2 separate regions of the Homo sapiens genome follow, and region 1 is linked to region 2. The links come from fine-mapping of genetic effects on gene expression. A gene starts in region 2. The other region holds a variant in brackets. All regions are shown on one strand. Distances are between the middles of the regions.

Region 1 (2,905 bases), 24 kb after region 2:
TCAGTGCCCCACACCCTGCCACACACACAGCCCTCATTCTCTCCCTCCTCTCCTCTCTGTCCCTGGCCCCAGCCTCCCCGTCCAGTCTGTCCTCCACAGGGCTCCGGGGGCGGGGTTCTTCATGCCCAGCACTGACTCTGCCCCTCCCTCCCCCTCCTGGGCCCCCAGGAGACGGTCCCACTCCCCAGCCGGGACGTTTCCTCCTGTGGCTTTGTTTTTCTGCATTTTCTGCACCAAATGGATTTTCTGTGGTTTTCCTGAACTCACCACACTCTTCAAACCTCTACCTTCTGCCCATATTGTTCCCTCCAGTTACAATGCCCGTCCCCTCCTCTCAGTCAAGCCATCTCAGTCCCTGTAAGCTACCCCATCACAGCCTTAGTCTGGGGCCAAAAGGCCCACTGTCAACTCATAGTGGGCCATTCCTGTCTCCACACGCTTGGATCAGTTATTTCTTCTCTCTGAGAATCAATTTTTGCATTCAGAAAGTAGAATACATGGAAAAACCCACTGTATGTGCTTTTTTGTGATGATTAAATGCAATATTGTGCATAAAGAGCTTAGCATATAATCTCTCACAAGTTAGCTAATTTATTGGGTGGATATAATATGTTACATAGCCTGGGTGCCATGGCTCACGCCTGTAATCCCAGCACTTTGGGAGGCCGAGGTGGGTGGATCACGTGAGATCAGAAGTTAGAGACCAGCCTGGCCAATGTGGCAAAACCCCGTCTTACCACAAAAAAATACTTAGCTGGGCGTGATGGTGTGCACCTGTGATCACAGCTACTCTGGAGGGTGAGGCAAGAGAATCACTTGAACCCAGGAGGCAGAAGTTGCAGTGAGCCGAGATCACATCACTGCACTCTGGCCTTGGCGACAGAGTGAGACTCTGTCTCAAAAAAAAAAAAATATATATATATATAGATAGATAGATAGATAGATAGATATAGATATACACACACATACTAATAATATGTTATATAACATATTATATACTTAAATATATATACAAATTATATATAAAGTATCAATATATGCTTTTTTTTTTTTGTGAGGGAGTTTTGCTCTTGTTGCCCAGGCTGGAGTGCAGTGGCGTGGTCTCGGCTCACTGCAACCTCCGCCTCCCGGGTTCAAGCGATTTTCCTGCCTCAGCCTCCCAAGTAGCTGGGATTACAGGCATGCGCCACCACGCCTGGCTAATTTTGTATTTTTAGTAGAGATGGGGTTTCTCCATGTTGGTCAGGCTGGTCTCGAACTCCCAACCTCAGGTGATCTGCCCACCTCGGCCTCCCAAAGTGCTGTGATTACAGGTTTGAGCCACCGCACCCGGCCTA[CT/C]TTTTTTTTTTTTTTTTTTTTTTTGAGATGGAATGGAGTTTCACTCTTGTTGGCCAGGCTGCAGTGCAATGGCAAGGTCTCGGCTTACTACAACCTCATCCTCCTGGGTTCAAGCAATTCTCCTGCCTCAGCCTCACGAGTAGCTAGGACTACAGGCGCCCACCACCATGCCAGGCAAATTTTTGTATTTTTAGTAGAGAAGGAGTTTCACCATGTTGACCAGGCTGGTCTCGAACTCCTGACCTCAGGCGATCCACCCACCTCGGCCTCCCAAAGTGCTGGGATTACAGGTGTGAGCCACTGTGCCAGGCTTCTAAAATTTTTTTTTTTTTTTTTTTGAGACATAGCCTCCCTCTGTCGCCCAGGCTGGAAAGCAGTGGTGCAGTCTCAGCTCACGGCAACCTCCGCTTCCTGGGTTCAATCGACTCTTGTGCCTCAGACTCCCGAGTAGCTGGGATTACAGGCGTGCCCCACCATGCCCGGCTAAGTATTTTTTTGGTAGAGATGGGGTTTCGCCATGTTGGCCAGGCTGGTCTCAAACTCCTGACCTCAAGTGATCTGCCAGCTTCAGCCTCCCAAAGTGCTGCTATTACAGGCGTGAGCCACTGCATCCAGCCTACTGATATATACTTATTAACTCCACAGAAATCTTTGTACCCCAGTAGGATTTACTTTGTCTTTGTTTTAACCTGCTTGGCGTTTCCTCCATTAAAGCTCATCTCACTGAGACCTGTCCTTCCCCAGGTGAAGAATTTCATGACGTGGAGGATGCAGAGACCTACAAAAAGATGCTGGCTCGGGACGAGCGGCGTTTCCGGGTGGCCGACCAGGATGGGGACTCGATGGCCACTCGAGAGGAGCTGACAGCCTTCCTGCACCCCGAGGAGTTCCCTCACATGCGGGACATCGTGATTGCTGTGAGTGGCGGCTGGGGAACCCTGTCCCCCACACCCTTCCGGGGACCCAGGCTTCCGGTTCAGGTCCTGCTTCCCAGCACCGACCTGGGGGCAGGCAGTCACCTGGTTCTCCAGCATCTTGCCGGGGAAGCCAGGCCGCAAACACAGGTCAGAGGACGGTGACCTTTCCCACCTCCACTCTCAGTCCCCTGGGGTCTGATCTCTCCTCGTCTGGCCTTCCCCTCCCTGTGCTCGCATTTGGGGTCCAGGCCCCCAGCCTTCCCTCAGACAGCCACTGTGCCCCACCTTATACAATTTCTTTTCTTTCTTTTTTTTTTTTGAGACATAGTCTCCCTCGGTTGCCCAGGCTGGAAAGCAGTGGTGCGATCTCAGCTCACTGCAACCTCCGCCTCCCGGGTTCAAGCAATTCTCCTGCCTCAGCGTCCCGAGTAGCTGGGATTACAGGGGCGCACCACCACACCTGGCTAATTTTTAGTAGAGACAGGGTTTCTTCATGTTGGTTAGGCTGGTCTCAAACTTTTGACCTCAGGTGATCCGCCCGCCTCAGCCTCCCAAAGTGCTAGGATTATAGGCATGAGCCACCGTGCCCGGCCAATTTTTAATTTTTTTTTCTAGTAGAGATGGGATTTCACCATGTTGGCCAGGCTGGT
Region 2 (2,905 bases):
CTGTCATCCCAGTGCTTTGGGAGGCCAAGGTGGGAGGCTGTCTTGAGCCCAGCAGTTTGAGACCAGCCTGGGAAACATAGCAAGACACTATCTCTGCAAAAATACAAAAATTAGCTGGGCCTGGTGGCAAGTGTGTGTAATTCCAGCTCCTTGAGAGGCTAAGGCAGGTGGAGTGCTTGAGCTTGGGAGGTTGAGGCTGCAGTGAGCCATGATCGCTCCACGGCATTCTAGCTTGAGTGACAGAGCCAGACCCTGTCAAAAAAAAGGAAAGGAAGGAAGGAAGGAAGGAAGGAAGGAAGGAAGGAAGGAAGGAAGGAAGGAGGCAAGGAAGGAAGGAGGCAAGGAAGGAAGGAAGGAAGGAGGCAAGGAAGGAAGGAAGGAAAGACTTCATATTATATGATTCAATTTCTTTGAAATGTGCAGAATAGGCAAATCTATCAAGACAGAAAGCAGATGAATGGTTGCCAGGGGTCTGGGAGCAGCGGCTGTTTAACGGGGACAGACCTTCTGTTTGGGGTGATAAAAAAGCTCTGGAACTCGGATAGAGGTGACAGTTGCACAGCACTGTAAATGTGTTAAATGACAGTAAGGGTAAATATTTTGAATATTTTACCACAATGAAATAAGTGTATGGGAAGCTTTGTAGCAGGAGTGTGGGCGGGGGCTGGTGCCTGGAGGGGCCTTCGAGTGAGGCAGCATTGTATGGGGACCATGTGGTCACTGAAGTCCTAGCAGAAGGATGTGGTTTTTTTTTTTTTTTGAGACGGAGTCTCGCTCTGTTGCCAGTCTGGAGTGCAGTGGTGCAATCTCGGCTCACTGCGACCTCCACCTCCCGGGTTCAAGCAATTCTCCTGTCTCAGCCTCCCGAGTAGCTGGGACCACAGGCCCACCACCACGCTCAGCTAATTTTTGTATTATTAGTAGAGACGGGGGTGTCACCATATTGGCCAGGCTGGTCTCGAACTCCTGACCTCGTGATCCGCCCGCCTTGGCCTCCCAAAGTGCTGGGATTACAGGCGTGAGTCACTGCGCCCGGCCCGCAGAAGGATATTAAAGAGCACCTGCAGGAATTTTTTAAGGGGATGCCGGGGGAAGGGCTTGAAGGAGGAACTAAGGAGGCTTCCAGAAGATTTTGATTAACAGCGAGCGCTAGGGAAGGCCACGGGGATACAGAGGGGTAGGAGGAGGATCCAGAGACCTCCAAGTTGTGGACTCCGGAGGCATCGAGTTCCTTTCCCAGTTTTGTCAAGAATTCCCTGAGCGGCAGACACCCTCAAAGTAAAAAACGGGAACCACAGAGAAGGAAAAAGAAGAACCACAAGCGTTTTGAGAAACAAACAGGCTGGGCCTAGGGCCTGGGGTGTGCCCTGCAACTGGGGGGTGGGGCTGGATGTTCTTGGAGTCAGGGAGCAGCAGCCTCCCACAGGATGTGAGAGAGGAACTGGGGTCTCCAGTCACGGGAGCCAGGAGCCGGCCAGGGCCGCAGGCAGGAAGGGAGCGAGGCTGAAGGGAACGTGAGCCGACCAGGGCCCGACTGAGGGAGGAGGGGCTGGGGGCCTGGAACCCTGGGTCTGAGGGAGGAGTGGCTGGGGGTCTCGACACTGGGTCTGAGGGAGGAGGGGTGGGGGCCTGGATTCCTGGGTCTGAGAGAGGAGGGACTGGGGGTCTGGACGCTGGGTCTGAGGGAGGAGGGAGGAGGGGCCGGGGGGGCCTGGACTCCTGGGTCCGAGGGAGGAGGGGTTGGGGGCCCGGACTCCTGGGTCCGAGGGTAGAGCGGTTGGGGGCCCGGACTCCTGGGTCCGAGGGTAGAGCGGTTGGGGGCCCGGACTCCTGGGTCCGAGGGAAGAGCGGTTGGGGGCCTGGACTCCGGGGTCTGAGGGAGGAGGGGCTGGGGCCTGAGGGGGGCGGAAGGGGCGTGGCGGAGCTCGGGGCCGGGACTCTCAGCCTATCAAGTGTCTGTAATTAATTAACCAACTGAGATCCAGTTCAGGGGTGAAAGTTCTTCAGGTACGAGGAGGGCATTGTTGTCAGTCTGGACCGAGCCCGCAGAGCCCCTCCTCGGCGTCCTGGTCCCGGCCGTGCCCGCGGTGTCCCGGGAGGAAGGGGCGGGCCGGGGGTCGGGAGGAGTCACGTGCCCCCTCCCGCCCCAGGTCGTCCTCTCAGCATGGGGGTCCCGCGGCCTCAGCCCTGGGCGCTGGGGCTCCTGCTCTTTCTCCTTCCTGGGAGCCTGGGCGCAGGTGAGGGCCGCTCCGGGCCAGGGCCCTGCTGCAGGCGGGCGGCGGGAGGCGGCCCCAGGCAGGCAGGGGCGAAGCCAGCGGGACCCGAGTTCCCCGCGAGCCCCTGGCGCTGCCTTCTCCGCTCAATTAACTTTCTCAACGTCTCCTGCTGGGCCTGAGGCTGGGAACCACCTGTCGCCTCTTGTGTCTGTTTCCCTCTCTCTCTCTGGGTCTCTGTCCCCCTCTCTTTCTGGGTCTCTTGTCTCTCTCTCTCTGGGTCTCTGTCCCCCCCCCCCCGGGTTTCTGTCCCCTCTCTCTGAATCTGTCCCCCTCCCTCCATAATAGATTCTTCTCCCTCCCTGGGTATCTGTCCCACTGCAGTCTAGTTCCCCGCCCGTGTGCTCCCTTCAGCTCTGTTTCTGTCTGCAGAAAGCCACCTCTCCCTCCTGTACCACCTTACCGCGGTGTCCTCGCCTGCCCCGGGGACTCCTGCCTTCTGGGTGTCCGGCTGGCTGGGCCCGCAGCAGTACCTGAGCTACAATAGCCTGCGGGGCGAGGCGGAGCCCTGTGGAGCTTGGGTCTGGGAAAACCAGGTGTCCTGGTATTGGGAGAAAGAGACCACAGATCTGAGGATCAAGGAGAAGCTCTTTCTGGAAGCTTTCAAAGCTTTGGGGGGAAAAGGTGAGATT

The links. PIP is the estimated chance that this variant, and not a neighbour inherited with it, causes the effect. A credible set is the group of variants that fine-mapping cannot tell apart.
Region 1: its variant is the best candidate, but not a certain one, in a credible set for the expression of FCGRT in whole blood (INTERVAL, PIP 0.70).

What each region holds. Positions count from the first base shown.
Region 1 is chr19:49,534,951-49,537,855 of GRCh38, forward strand. RCN3 (reticulocalbin 3) reads left to right here. Exons shown (of 7, transcript NM_020650.3): 4 at 2,083-2,255. Among named protein-coding and RNA genes, the nearest start is that of RCN3, 8.4 kb to the left of the region's middle. The variant CT/C (reference allele first, on the strand shown) is at 1,338.
Region 2 is chr19:49,511,237-49,514,141 of GRCh38, forward strand. It overlaps FCGRT (Fc gamma receptor and transporter), which reads left to right and starts at 1,425. Exons shown (of 7, transcript NM_001136019.3): 1 at 1,425-1,514; 2 at 2,151-2,237; 3 at 2,646-2,897. The coding sequence starts at 2,165. RefSeq lists an enhancer at 445-1,007.